2 linked regions of the Homo sapiens genome follow. The protein of the gene in region 1 interacts with the protein of each later gene in a pairwise test. Each region holds a gene or a part of one and is shown on either strand. Other genes may lie near its edges.

The links. Proteins that work in one complex are often made in the same cells at the same time.
Region 2: the proteins of BAHCC1 (region 1) and CLSTN1 interact in a two-hybrid assay, tested with the Homo sapiens proteins (one study listed by BioGRID and IntAct).

What each region holds. Positions count from the first base shown.
Region 1 is NC_000017.11:81,390,665-81,398,466, reverse strand, and holds the start of BAHCC1 (BAH and coiled-coil domain-containing protein 1), read right to left. Parts: upstream 3,011-7,802; 5' UTR 2,832-3,010; intron 1-2,831.
Region 2 is NC_000001.11:9,743,966-9,750,999, reverse strand, and holds part of CLSTN1 (calsyntenin-1 isoform 1 precursor), read left to right. Parts: intron 1-1,086; coding exon 1,087-1,236; intron 1,237-1,353; coding exon 1,354-1,539; intron 1,540-6,356; coding exon 6,357-6,605; intron 6,606-6,994; coding exon 6,995-7,034. UniProt on the Homo sapiens protein: Postsynaptic adhesion molecule that binds to presynaptic neurexins to mediate both excitatory and inhibitory synapse formation.

The DNA of each region.
Region 1 (7,802 bases):
GGCGCCCAGCTCGGCCCTCTAGCCGGGGAAGGTGGGCCCGGCCCAGCACAACCTTCTGCCAGCAGACCCTGCCCGGACCTCGGCCACCTAAAATAACCCTCACCTCCATTTTCTTCCACCCCCACCCAACGCGGAGCATCCACTCAGGCGAAATTGGGGACAATTTTAGACTCTGGGTGCGGAGGGTCGGAGCCAGTGATAGAAGCTGCGTGCACCACCGTGCTCCCAGGCGTCCCTCCGAAGGCGCTCCCTGGACGCACTTCACATATTACTCCTCATCTTCTAAATACGTATTGTTTTAATGTTTATCACCTCCAACAAAAGGGAGATGGATAGGCTTGATATTCCTAATTAGGAACTTTGCGGAAAACCTTGTGTTTTTGTAGCCATTCCACCATGACAACAAAGCGATTAAGATGTTTTCCATCTACTGAATACCTTTTTAAATTGCGATATTTTATGGTCCGGGTTCTAAAACGTCTTATTTGCAGACTATTTTGTGTTTGATTTAATCTATAACCGAAAACATAATGTATTAAGTGAATACATATTTGCTCAGCTGATAAGCTTTTTTAATATTTATTCGGAGAGCTTTTGCATTGTAAATAAATGGGTCTACACAAAGAGTTCTCTTTGTCTGGCAACTACATACAAAGGCGTTTGGGGCTCCCTTCCCTCTGGGGATCGCCAGCTCTCTCCCCGGGTCTAACAAATAGCTCGGCTCCCAAGCCCCGATCCCGGCCTGCAAAGCGAGCGCCCGGCCGCCAGGGCCCGGAGAGTGCTCTGGCGAGGGGGCTGCGAGCGCAGGGGTCAGGGGAGGGGCTGCCCGGGCTGGACTAGGGACGTGGGGGCCCCCAGCCCCGGCCGGCGCCTCCCGAGCCCCGGAGGGCGCCGGGCGGGACAAAGGGAAAGAAGGAAAGGGAGGGAGGTCAGAAACCTGCAGCTTCAAAGGCGCCGAAGGCCGGAGAGGGGCCGGGGGCTGCGCACGCGGGGGTGCCAGGCTTCCTGGCGGCCTCCAGGGAGTCGTGTGTGCTGTGCTTTTGTTTTGTGGTTGTTTTTTTTTTTTTTTTTCTCTCCAATAAGAAATTTCAAAGTTGAGAAAGCGCGAGCTGCCGGCGATTCTCGGGACGCGGGCTCGGCTACGAAGCAACAATTTTAATCTCCCACCCCCTGCGGGCGGATCGCAGGCCCGATTGTTCCTTTCTCACCAGCCTGCTCGACTTTTTAAGCAAACAGGAGGTGGATTACTGTCGCCTGCCTGCGCCGCCACGGCTCTGACCGGATTGGAGAGAGCTTTTCTTTGTGTTCTCTCCTCCCGGGGAGAGGCCGCGCCGCGCCTCCGCGTCTGCCCGCGCCGGGCTTCGGGGGCCTGGGGAGCCTGAGGCGGCCAGGAAGTGGGGCGAGGAAGGGCGGCCACACGGCCCGAGCTGGGAGTCCCACAGTCCCGCAGCGGCGACGCCGCCACCCGCCGAGTGCCGAGGCCCGGGGCCCACTCCCAGCCCAGCTCCAGGAGAGGCCGCGCCGGAGGACCGCGAGGACGGCGCCGCAGCGCCAGGTCGGGCTGAGGTAAGGGAGGAAATGGAGCGAAAAGTGGCGGCGGGCAGAGGGCCCCGGGCGGGCGGAGAATCGCTGACGAGGGCATTTCGGAAGGAACTGAACCTAGGAGCACAGGGCTCCCTCCCGGGAAGGCAGGGCGTGACCCTGGAGCCGCCGGTCCCTCTTGCCGCGGCCCCAGGCGTGGCTGGCGCGCTCCAGGATCTGGAGCTTCTACAAGTTTGCTTTGTTTCCTGCTTTTGCATCTAAAAACCCGCTCTCTCCTCGCCCGCCTGCCGGAGACCAGGACTCTGGCCCGTCTGCCTCCCTCCGGCGTCGTCTCCGGGAGCGCGGGCGCGGTGGGGCCTGCAGGCCGGGCTGGGACCAGGCGCGCCTTGGGGCGCGAGTGGCTCGGCCGTCGCCGCAGAACCCGCTCCCTGCGAAACAGCCGCACCCGCTCCCTGGGAGAGTCATGAGAACTGGGGTCGCGCCTGACCCCCGCGCCCGAAGAAAACCAGCCCGCGGACCCCGCCACACGGGCCGTGACCCGAGCCCCGCGCGCCGTCCCGAACGCGCGCGGTGAAAACGCCCCGCTGCGCCGGCCTTGCTCGGTCCCCCTCCTCCACCCCCACTTCTCCGGAAAAAAAAAATTCTGAATTGGGAACGAAGACCCGAAAAACTCGCCATGACCATTCCCCTCCCCGGCCCCTAGCTTCGGCCCGGAAGGCCCCTCAGGGCAGCGGCCGTGGGTACCACGACCCGGCCAGTTCCCCTCGCCGCGGACCGACCGGGCAGGGCCAACCCAGGACTGTTCCGGGGAGGGGAGCAGGGTAGGGGAGCGAATGTTGGGGTTCGTTCGTGGGTCACCCAGAACTGGGCGCACGCTGGCGGCGCCCGGACTTCGCCTACTGTCCGCCCGGTGCCACCCGCGCGGCTCGCGCCAGACGCAGCCTGGCGGTCCCTGTCCTGTCTTCGAGTATTTGTTTTTAATGCTGGGTGTCGATCGAGACAACAAGCGCTCAGAGCAAAGCAAGGATGCATTACGGGGGTAATTTTAAACCGATCGATAAGATTTTTCAGAGAAAAAAAAATCGCTCATAGTCCATATTTTTTAAGAAAAAAAAAAGCCTCAACATTTTAACGGATTTTGTTAAAAGGGAAGATATATACTTCTTAACATCACAATCCTGAATTTCTTTTGCTAAAAAAAATGTAAAACCCCAAAGCCAGAATAAAAAATAAAATAATAATAAAAATACAAAAACAAAAAAAAAATGAAAGCAATTTCAGTTACTTACTGGAGGCTGTTTCCTGGATACAACTGAATGCAATACAATTAAATCAGTAAATGTGACTTTGTTTTGTATTCCTATTGGTATTTTCAATGTGCTGACTGTTGCACTGTAAATGCACCGCTTCCACAACAACGACTCTAGCGAGCCCATCCAGAGCGGCTCTCAAACCTGCAGCCTGGCGCGGCGAGCCACGGGCCCTGCATACTAATAAGCTCGTGCCACTCAGCCCGGAACAGCCAGCGCGCTGATTGGCCGCGCAGCCCTCCACGGCCGGGAGCTCGTGCCACTCATTCGGCGTAAACAGGCCTCCCAATAGGCTGGCGCCGGGCCAGGGAACTGCCAATCAGGAAGCAGCGGGGCTACTACCAAGCCCGATGGCGCCTAATTCAAGCCCGGCGACTGCGCAGCTCCTCTGCGCAGATCATTGCTGCTGAATGGGAATGTGGTGGCGCAGGGCGGGAGAGGGAGCTGGAGCGAGCGAGTGCGCGTGTCCCGGCGGAGGGGGAGGCGTAGACACAGACACAGACACACACACACACATATATGTTTAATCCAGCAGGTCTAACGTTTGGCTTCTGCCGCACAGAAGGCCAAGGGAAGAAACACCACCACCCCTTAAAAGTAGCTGCTTTTTCTCCCTGGAATCTGTCTGGCAGGTGGCAGGTAGGCCAGACCTCCAAGCCCAGAGGCCTCCCCAGGTTGCCTGGCCCATCTACCGCTCTGAAGCTGCTGCCTGCCCGGACCCGAGCTCGCGGATGCACGCACGCACGCCCGCTGCTTGGGCAGCAAAAGCTTTGAATAGCCCGTCCGGCTCTCTCCTCCCCATGACCTGGGGATCAGACCCTGGGAAGTGAGTTCTGAGTCTCCAGCCGTCTACATTACTGGCTCTCAATTTTATCTCCCTCTGCCACACTTTGCAACAGAGCAGCTACTAAAATGAAAATCAGGGATTTATTGAGAAGACAAGGATTGCCCTTTCTTCATCTACACCTAGATTTAGAAAATATTTTCAGTTTGGTAATGGGGGAAGCGGGTATGGTGTGGTAAACCATGTATAGTATTTCTCAATGCTGCTCCCTGTCTGCCTATCTGCTAAATCCTCACTCCAACTAAAGCAAGCCACTGAACAATTTTTATCGTAATCAGATGCAAACCACTTCTAAAATATTCCGCAAACAAATATTTCTGTTAGAATTTGGTTTCCCACCCAAATGCTATTTATTCTCAGGGAGTCGAGGTGATGTCTTAGTGGCGATGGATACATTTATTTTTGCTCCTCTTTCTCCATGTGAATCTCTGCCTCCCCCTCTGGGGGAAAAAAGGATATTTAAACTAGGAGCCAACTGACAGATTCACACGCATTCGAAATTCTCCACCGTCTCATTCCGGCAGGGACACGAAAGAGTTAAACTCAAAGCCTGTTGTCTCTCTGTTTCCCCGCCCCCACTCCCGCTCCCGCGGGACCGCTGGGATTGGTTGGCACTCCGCCAGTGGACTGTCCATCACCGAGTGTAAACAAGGCGCTGATTGGCTGTTGTCCAGTCCGCACTGGGCCTCCTGAAAAAAGCAATTACTGGCTCCGCGGTTTCAAGGCGGCCCAAGGCCGCTTGATGAAAGGAGATAAGCTGGGGACCGTTTCCAGGATCCCCGCGGGCCGACCGGGGCAGCCCGGGAGCCGAGGTGCGGCGGAGAGCCCGCGGATCAAAGGAATCTGGAGAGAAAGGGGAAGCGGGCGGCCGGCCCCGGCCGGCCTTCCCCCCCGCAGGCCACGCCGACCTGGGGTGGGGGGCTGCGGGCCGCGGGCGGGGACTCCGGGATTTCCCGCCTGCCTGAGTCGGGGCCTACGCCGGCGCCCGCTTCGGGCGGCTCGGCCCGGAGGGGAGCTCCGGAGAGCCCGGGGCTCGCAGGTAAGCACCGGCGCTCCGCGGGCCGGGCCGGGGACGCAGGACAAGGCGCGGGGCCCACCCCGGCTGGCTCGGGAGTGGCGGTCGCGCGGGCCCGGCTCCCGTCTCCGGCGTCTCCCGGCTCCGGCGGCCGGGACCCCCCGCGGCCGAGCCCCTGGCCAGGCCCCAGGCCGGCGCCTTCGGAAGCGACGTCTGGCGGGCCGCGGGGCACGAGGGGGAGAGCCGGGAAGCGTAAATCCCCGAAGCGCGCGGAGATCCGATTAGCGCGCGGCTATTCATTAGGCTGGGGGCGATTGAATTAGGTCCCTGGGCGCGGTCGCCGGCTGGGGGTGTGTGGCGCCGACCCCCGGGCTCTTGCCGTGGCCTCGGGAGGCTGGAGCAGCGAGCAGCGGCCCCAGCGAGTGTGTCGGGGAAGCGGGTGCCTCCGGGTCCCGGCCCCGCGGGTGCAGGCGGAGGCTGCCCGCTTCCCGCGTACACCGAGGACGGCCGGCCCGGCTCCGGAGAAATGGCGCTTGAGAAAGGAGGGGAGGGGAAGGTTCCCGGACCCTGGGCAGGGACCCGTCGCCGGGGACCCGCGGAGCCCTCCGGGGATGGAGGAGGCGCGAGCTGGAAGCGGCGCGCGAGCCCGAGCGCGGGGCTAACACCGTGGGGCCCAGTCTCTCCTGGCTCGGGTAAGTGGACGCGCCCCGAGGCCCCGGGTCCACGCAGGGCGCCCCTCGCAGACGGCGCATTTCCTACTCTCCTAAGGAACCGAGTTCCCATCACTGCCTCCGATGAGCCTGTTTCCGGATCAGGAACCTTTTTCAAGTTAATTTTTAAAGCCTCATTTGAATTTTTTAATATAGGAAAATACGTATACGAGAAAAATCTTGGATGCAACAAAAAGAACACCGTGGCCACCCGTGGTGTCCCAGAAGTTGCTCTGAGCTCCTCGCATCAGGGCAGGTGCTCCACCTCTAACCGCCCTGTGGGGGAACGGGAGGCCCCAAGCCCCTGGGAGTCCTGGTCTCCTCTAGAGTGTGTTGGAAGGACAGCCGCTGGAAAGGCCCCTCAGAGCCCCTAAACCAGCCTCCCCTCCCCCGTGGGCAGATTGTTCGAGGGTCCTGGAGCCTGAATGATGGGCCCTCGGCTTGCCCACCCCCATCCCCAGTCATCAATCACCATTTGAGAAATGCCCACTGCCAGGGACATGGGAGGGCAGAGGGTAGCTCGCGGGTGCGTGGCCCCTATCTCCTCAAGCTGGTTTAGACCCTTCTGGCTCAGCCTCACCAGATTCCTAGGATGAGCACTGGCTTCAAATCCCCCAAGTGCTGGTCCCTTCGTGTCCCCGAAAGAGGCTGCTCGCGTGGGCAAAGGCCCCGAGGCGTCGAGTGCGCCTTCCAGGGCAGTGCGGAAGCTCCCTGCCCTCCTCCTTCCTCCCCACTTCTGCCTCCTCCTCCCCCAGTGTTCACTTGAAGCAAATTCTAGTGGGCTTTTTTTTTTTCAATACTGTTTCAAAACAGTTGTTACAGCAAATAACTGCAGACGGGTCTGCTGGACGCGGTGGAGAGGGGCTGGCAGCTGCCCAGCACAGGCGCCTGGCCGCTGGGCAGCTCCCGCAATACCAAAATAAGCTCCCGAGTTCCCCTGGAAGACTTGGGCCGCCGGGAGCTCAGGCTGGCGATCTGCTCAGAGGAAACCTCCCTACTTTCCTTTTTTACTCTTCCTGCTGTCCAGAGCTAACAAATGTTTTTAATTTCAGAGGAACATGGTGTGGGGATCTGCAGACTTGCCTTCCACTGGGGAGAGGGCCAGCGAGGGGACAGAGGGGGAGGAAAGGAGAGGGGATAATAGACCCGAGGTCAGTGTTGATGCTGGAGGGCCCAGGTCTCTGAAGTTCCTGCAGCTTTGCAGGTGAGCGGGCTGCAAGTGAGGCTAGGCCTGTGGACACCCAGTGGGGCCTGGAACAGTGCCAGGAGTGGCCTTGAACCCCACCTTGATCCCTCTCCAGCAGGATCTGGAGTCACTTCCATGGGCCTGGCATACACCACTCCAGATTTGCCCTCTGGCCTGGGGAGCAGATAACCCCCCGCCCCACATAACCAGCTGCGCTCCTACACCTAGCAGGCCGGCTCACATCACCCTTTAACGCACACTATATTCACACACACACTTGTGCACAGTCTTGAATGTGTGCCCACACATCTGCCTGCACACACTCATGTGCCCACATGTGAATCACTTGGAAGTGTACACAAAACCAAACCCACAGCACAGATGGGCAGACAGGTGAGCCTCGTGCAGCATGTGACACTCCCACATGCACAAGACATGTGTGCAGAGGCATATCACACACGCAGAAGCACTCCCGAGAACTGCCTTCTCCCTTTCAGCCTAGGGGCCCCTGTTCCCCCACAACCGGGCCCAGCCCTGGAGCCCCCTCCAGCACTCCTCTCCCACCCCCACGCTCCCCAAGAGCAGCAGATGTAGGTCTCCCGGCTCCCAAACCTCTGAGATGCTGCTCTGTCTGAAATCATCATATAAATAATCATTTTTTAATACAAGGGGGTGGGGGTGTCAGGCAAGTTCCATGAAATTGTGAATTAGCCGCTGCTCCAAATAAATGCCTGCTTCGGCCCGAGAGCAGCCGCGCTGCGCCCGCTGCGCCCCCAATAATCGTGTGTTGGGTATCTCTCCATTGTTCCCTGGGCCATTAGTCAAAGGGCAAATTAGAAACAATTTCTTGACGACAAAAATTGACTCTTAATTCTTCCCACCAGAGGCGCAGGGGGACAAGTCCAGAGGCCAGGCCTGAGGCTGGGGCTGGCGGCAGGAGGGGTAGGCGGGGTAGAGGTGGGGTAGAGGTGGGGGATCTAAGATGGTTCACAGCACAGAGACCTCCCTCAACTGGAGGGCAGCAGCAGCTCACCCCCACCCCAGAATCAGTGTTCCAGAGGACAGCTGGGGGCAGGGGGTTAGGAACAATCCCACTCCCTCCTGGAAGAGGTCCTGACCCCCCACCCCACCCATCTGCCTGTACGGGTCCCTCTGCTATCGACTGGGGCGAGTTCTTTTCATGAGGGCCTTGCCT
Region 2 (7,034 bases), on another chromosome or scaffold:
TCTGCCTCCCGGGTTCAAGTGATTCTCCTACCTTAGCCTCTCGAGTAGCTGGGATTACAGGTGCCCACCACCACGCCCAGCTAATTTTTTGTTGTTGTTGTTTGTATTTTTAGTAGAGATAGGGTTTCACCATGTTGGCCAGACTGGTCTTGAACTCCTGACCTCAGGTGATCCGCCCACCTTGGCCTCCCAAAGTGCTGGGATTACATGTGTGAGCCACCGCGCCTGGCCATGTTCTCCATTAAGTTAGAATCTCCTGTGACATCTTTTTTTTTTTTTTTTTTGTTTGAGGGAAGGTCTTGCTCTGTCGCCCAGGCTGGAATGTAGTGGTGCAGTCACTGCTCACTGTAACCTCGAACTCCTGGGCTCACGGGATCCTCCCGCCACAGCCTCGCTAGTAGCTGGGACTGCAGGCACACACCTGTAGTCCCAGCTATTTGGGAGGCTGAAGTGGGAGAATCGCTTGAACCCAGGAGGCAGAGGTTGCAGTGAGCCGAGATCAGGCCACTGCACTCCAGCCTGGGCAAGAGAACGAGACCCTGTTCCAAAAAGAAAAAAAAAGATAATACAGTGTTTCCATTGTTAATCAATGCACGGTCTAGAATCTTTGATGGAATTATGGACATTGCAAACACTTTCCAGAGATCTATACTCACCACGTTCAAAAAGCAGGCTTCTGTTCTAAGCAGGTGGGGGTAGGAAATCTCTCTTTCTTTTAATATAGTAAATGTTTGATCAGCGATCTTATATTTAATATTTGAGGTACTTGAATTATTATTATTTTTTAATCCTCTGAATGTATGTAAACAGTTAAATCTTAATGTAAAGCCCAATGTAACACTGTGAGAGTAAGTGGAGACTGAGCTGTGTAGCTCCGTCTCTTCTGTTGAAACTCTTCAGGATGGATTTAGTGCGTGTTAGGGCTCAGGGAGGACAGGTTGAGGGTTAAGCATCCCAAGCATATGTTTATTTCTGGCTGAGTATTTACAGGGCTTAAAGCCTATGCATTTTGTCTTTCCGCCTAGGACAACAAAAGTAAAACCAGCATGGGTTTTGGCTCTCACTGTTGTTTTTGCCCTCTGTAAGGTTATATAAAAAACACAGAGAAATTAAACTACGGGAAAGAACATCAATATAAGCTGACCGTCACTGCCTATGACTGTGGGAAGAAAAGAGCCACAGAAGATGTTTTGGTGAAGATCAGCATTAAGCCCACCTGCACCCCTGGGTGGCAAGGTGAGCTTCATTCTCTCCCCTGCGCTCACATCTGCTCTTAAAACTGATGTATGCGGCAGCAACCTAGAGTGTGTGTTTTCCTTCTCTCTTCCCCTGCTGACTTGTGGACCAACACAGGATGGAACAACAGGATTGAGTATGAGCCGGGCACCGGCGCGTTGGCCGTCTTTCCAAATATCCACCTGGAGACATGTGACGAGCCAGTCGCCTCAGTACAGGCCACAGTGGAGCTAGAAACCAGCCACATAGGGAAAGGCTGCGACCGAGACACCTACTCAGAGAAGTCCCTCCACCGGCTCTGTGGTAAGGAGACCAGGCGTTCTTGCATCCGGCTGGCTTTGGTGAAGGTGGGAGGGACCTTTACAACTGGAAATACTTGTGTGTGTTGTGTTCATAATTATAAACTGTGACAGAGAATCTGCATTTCTGAAGTGAACTTTGCTGCCTTGCTGGCTAGTTTTCATACTGGATGGGCTTCGGGGGTGGGGCAGGGGGTGGACATCAACTCCTAAACGTCTATTCAACATGTTGTGTATATGTGCATTTTAAGAACCACTGGTGGCCAGATGTGGTGGCTTATACCTGTAATTCCAGCACTTTAGGAGGCCGAGGTGGGAAGATCACTTGAGCCCAGGAGTTTGAGACCAGCCTGGGCAACACAGCGATACCCCATCTCTACAAAAAATTGAAAAATTAACTGGGGATGGTGGCATGGACCTGTAGTTCCAGTTACTTGGGAGGCTGAGCGGGAGGATCACCTGAGCCCGGGAGGTTGAGGCTGCAGTGAGCCGTGATGGCACCATTGCACTCCACCCTGGGCAATAGAGTGAGACCCTGTTTTAAAAAAAGAACCACTGATTTGAAGGAAGTATTTCTCCAGCATACTCTGAGAATCATCCAAAAAGGGCTTCTATAGGAGTACATGGAGTGAGTTTTACATGAAATGAGATGTTTACTTACGAATTGAAGACAAAGGCCAGGGCATGGGGGCTCATGCCTATAATCTTACCACTTTGGGAGGCCGAGGTGGGCAGATCACCTGAGGTCAGGAGTTCGAGACCAGCCTGACCAACATGGAGAAAACCCTGTCTCTACAAAAAAAACAAAAACTAGCCGGGCATGGCGGTGCACGCCTGTAGTCCCAACTACTTGGGGGGCTGAGGGAGGAGGATCGCTTGAGCCCAGGAGGTGGACGTTGCAGTGAGCCAAGATCACGCCGCTGCATTCCAGCCTGGATGACAGAGTGAGAACCTGTCTCAAAAAGAACTGAAGGAAAAATATAGGTAATACAATAGCTTTTGACAAACATGAAGTAGAAAATCAGAACTAAAGATAGCCACATCTAACTTAGAATCTCAATAGATTTTCTATATCACAATATTGTGTGGAGAAATTGAGAGACAGAATTACTGGGAAACCCACCAGAAGGCTAGGTCTCTCTTTACTGTCAGCTGCGGATATTTTTCTGGTTTATCTAAATGAAGAAGAGGTGAGGTATGGATGGCTGTCATGGAAGATGTTGAGGGAAGAACATTTAGTTGACTGGTGATAAAATCCCACTAAATGAAGCAGCGTCTTCATAAATTGGAAGGGTCTTTTGTGTTTCAAAAAGCTTTTGTGAAACAGCTTTTCAGGGAGCATTTTCTTAAACTGATGAGTCTTTTCACTAGCCTGATAACAACCATGAGATTTAGGTTACTGGTTTTCTTTTTTTTTTTTTTAGACAGAGTCTCACTCTGTCACCCAGGCTGGAGTGCAGTGGCGCCATCTCGGCTCACTGCAAGCTCCGCCTCCTGGGTTCACACCATTCTCCCGCCTCAGCCTCCCGAGTAGCTGGGACTACAGGCACCTGCCACCATGCCCGGCTAATTTTTTTGTATTTTTAGTAGAAACGGGGTTTCACCGTGTTAGCCAGGATGGTCTCGATCTCCTGACCTCGTGATCCGCCCACCTCGGCCTCCCAAAGTGCTGATTGCAGGCATGAGCCACCGCGCCCGGCCACTGGTTTATAATTGAAAATTATCCAGATCACTTGAGGTCAGGGGTCTAAGACCAGCCTGATCAACATGATGAAACCCCCGCTCTACTAAAAATAAAAAATTAGCCAGGCGTGGTGCGAGGTGCCTATACTCCCAGCTACTTGGGAGGCTGAGGCAGGAGAATTGCTTGAACCCAGGAGGCTGCAGTGAGCCAAGAGTGTGCCACTACTCTCCAGCCTAGGTGACAAAGCTAGACTTTGTCTTAGAAAAAAAACAATAAATAAGAAGAAAATTATCATGTGGTAAATAAACCAAAGTAGAAAACTAGACATTATGCTGCCACAGTCCAATGATGAGCATATGGGGGTGTTTGGCAACTCTGAATCCAAATATTCATAATTGTCACCTAAATATATTTAAGTAAGGAGGTCTGGCACATTTTCTGTTTTAAACCATGCATGTAAGTATAATATATAAAATTTATTCCGTCTCTCATTTCATGGTATTAAGTGAATTTTTTTTCAGCAGAATAAAGTTAGGAAGAATAGAAATAATTTGAGTGCTTACTATGCACCAGGTACTTTTTTTTTTTTTTTTTTTTTTTTTTTGAGACAGTCTCCCTCTGTCGCCCAGGCTGGAGTGCAGTGGCGCAATCTCACTCACTGCAACGTCTGCCTCCTGGGTTCAAGCGATTCTCCTGCCTCGGCCTCCCAAGTAGCTGGGATTACAGGCATGTGCCATGATGCCTGGCTACTTTTTGTATGTTTAGTAGAGATGGGATTTCACCATGTTGGCGAGGCTCGTCTCCAACTCCTGACCTCAAGTGATCCACCCACCTCGGCCTCCCAAAGTGCTGGGATTATATGCATGAGCCACTGCGCCTGGCCTTACTCCAGGTACTTCTATGTGTGTTTTAGCTTAATGTTCCCAACAAGTCTACGAAGTAGGTGGGTATTGACCTTGTTACAGAGGAATTAAACAATTGAGACTAAAGCAGGTTAAGTAGCTTGCCCAAGCCCACATATTCAGGAGCTGAGGTTCTAGTGTGTGTGTGTGGTTTTTTTTTTTCTTTTGAGACAGAGTCTCACTGTCGCCCAGGCTGGAATGCAATCGTGCTATCTTGGCTCACTGCAGCCTCCACTTCCTGTGTTTAAGTGATTCTCCCACCTCAGCCTCCCAAGTAGCTGAGATTACAGGCATCTGCCATCATGCCTGGCTCATTTTTGTATTTTTGTAGAGACAGAGTTTCACCATATTGGCCAGGCTGGTTTGAACTCTTGACCTCAGTTGATCTGCCTGCCTCAGCCTCTCAAAGTTCTGGGATTACAGGCGCAAGCCACCACGTCTAGCTTCAGGAGCTAAGATTTGGACCAAGGTCTTCTGTTACTCAAGAGGCCAGGCTGGTCCAGCCAAGGCCTGCTGCTCCGAGTAATAGCTTAGTCAAGAAGGAGCTTGCAAAATCTTTTCCTGTGGACAAAAAAAAATTTTTTTAATTTGAACATGGCAATACATAAGAATGGTTGGAAAACATTTTTTATGTTTTTTGACTTAGTAATTTCATTTCTAGGAATTTATTTTAAGGGAATAATCATGGAGACACATAAAGCTGTGCATGCAGGTGAGGTTTATAATAGGAAAAGGTTAGGGACAGCCTCTGTGCCCACCTGGGAGGCTGGTCAGTAGGTGATGCTGTATCTGTACAATGAAATGCTATTCAGGCCGAGCGCGGTGGCTCACACCTATAATCCCAGCACTTTGGGAGTCTGAGGCAGATGGATCGCTTGAGCCCAGTAGTTGGAGACTAGCTTGGACAACATGGCGAAACCCCGTCTCTACAAAAACACAAAAATTAGCCGGGCATGGTGGCACACACCTGTGGTCCCAGCTACTTGGGAGGCTGAGGTGGGAGGATTGCTTGAGCTCAGGAGGTCAAGGCTGCGGTAAACCAACGCTGCACCACTGCACTGCAGCCTGGGCGAGAGAGGAGACCCTGTCTCAAAAAAAAAAAAAAAAAAAAAACAACTATTCAGATAGTTTAAATTACATGATAGAAGAATATTGCTAGGAATATATATGTATTATGCACATACATAGCAGGACTCCACTTTTATTGTATTTGTTTATATATTTTTGAGACAGGGTCGCACTCGCCCAGGCTGGAGTATAGTGGCACAGTCACAGCTCACTGCAGCCTCAACCTCCTGGGCTCAAGTGATCCTCCCATCTCAGCCTCCCAAGTAGCTGGGACTACAGGGATGCACCACCACACCTGGCTAATTTTTGTGTTTTTTGTATTGACAGGGTTTTGCCATGTTGTCCAGGCTGGTCTCCAACTCCTGGGCTCAAGCAATCTGTGTGCCTTGGCCTCCCAAAGTGCTGGGATTACAGGTGTGAGCCACCAAGCCCTGCCAGGACTCCATTTTTCTAAGAAAACGCATCATTTTTGTGTATATTTACCAAAGGAGGACTGGGTGTTTATACTAAAATGGTATAATTTGAATCAGATTACAAGAAATGCTTCCTTTCCCTTCCTTTTTGTTTTTTTTTTTTTTTTTTGAGACGGAGTCTCGCTCTGTTGCCCAGGCTGGAGTGCAGGGGTGCGATCTCGGCTCACTGCAAGCTCCGCTTCCCGGGTTCACGCCTGGCCCTTTCCCTTCCTTAAACAAATCCATGGTTGTTATTTTTATTTTTGTAATTTAAAACCCTGATTTTTGAAGAGAAGTAAACTGAAAGGGCCAAGCGTGGTGGCTCACGCCTGTAATCCCAGCACTTTTGGAGGCCGAGTCAGGCGGATCACGAGGTCAGGAGTTCCAGGCCAGCCTGGCCAACATGGTGAAACTCCGGCTCTCCTGAAAATGCAAAAATTAGCCAGTTTTAATGGGGCGCGCCTGTAATCCCAGCTACTCGGGAGGCTGAGGCAGGAGAACAGCTTGAACCCGGGAGGTGGAGGTTGCAATGAACCGAGATCGCGCCACTGTACTCCAGCCTGGGGACAAAGCAAGACTCTGTCTCGAAAGAAAAAAAAAAAGTAAACTGGAGCCAGCAGATTGCCTAAGTGTAAGACAAGCACGTGCCTGGGGGCTTGAGGTGCGCGGGACCTCTGGCTCCTCACATGAGTTTCACCGAGCACTGTGGCTTCAGGTGCGGCCGCGGGCACTGCCGAGCTGCTGCCATCCCCGAGTGGATCCCTCAACTGGACCATGGGCCTGCCCACCGACAATGGCCACGACAGCGACCAGGTGTTTGAGTTCAACGGCACCCAGGCAGTGAGGATCCCGGATGGCGTCGTGTCGGTCAGCCCCAAAGAGCCGTTCACCATCTCGGTGTGGATGAGACATGGGCCATTCGGCAGGAAGAAGGAGACAATTCTTTGCAGTTCTGATAAAACAGGTAGGGTAATAGCTCTGCAAGCGATGCCAGGCCCCAGTGTCCAGTAGGGTGGGTGCCAGCGGCAGGCTCCCTCTCCTTTCCCAGGGTCCCCTGCCAGCCTGGTGCTCGTAGGCCATGTGCCATGCTGTGTGCCTGGGGCACTTGGTTCCCTAGAGCCACGGCCTGGGCATTTGGGTATTAGCTGTTGTTGCTCAGTGGGGTCCACGGTGATCACAGGCTCCGCCTCTCAGGAAAGCCCAAGTGTATTTGTTTCTAAGCCCTGCCTTGGCTTAGCCGAAGAGTTCATTTATGCAGATGAAATTGTGTCTTCAAAATCCATTCAAGAAACAGCTTTAATTTCTCCTTTGGATCTTTAGTTGGCAATTTACCCATAGAAACTGCCTTTGCAGATATGAATCGGCACCACTACTCCCTCTATGTCCACGGGTG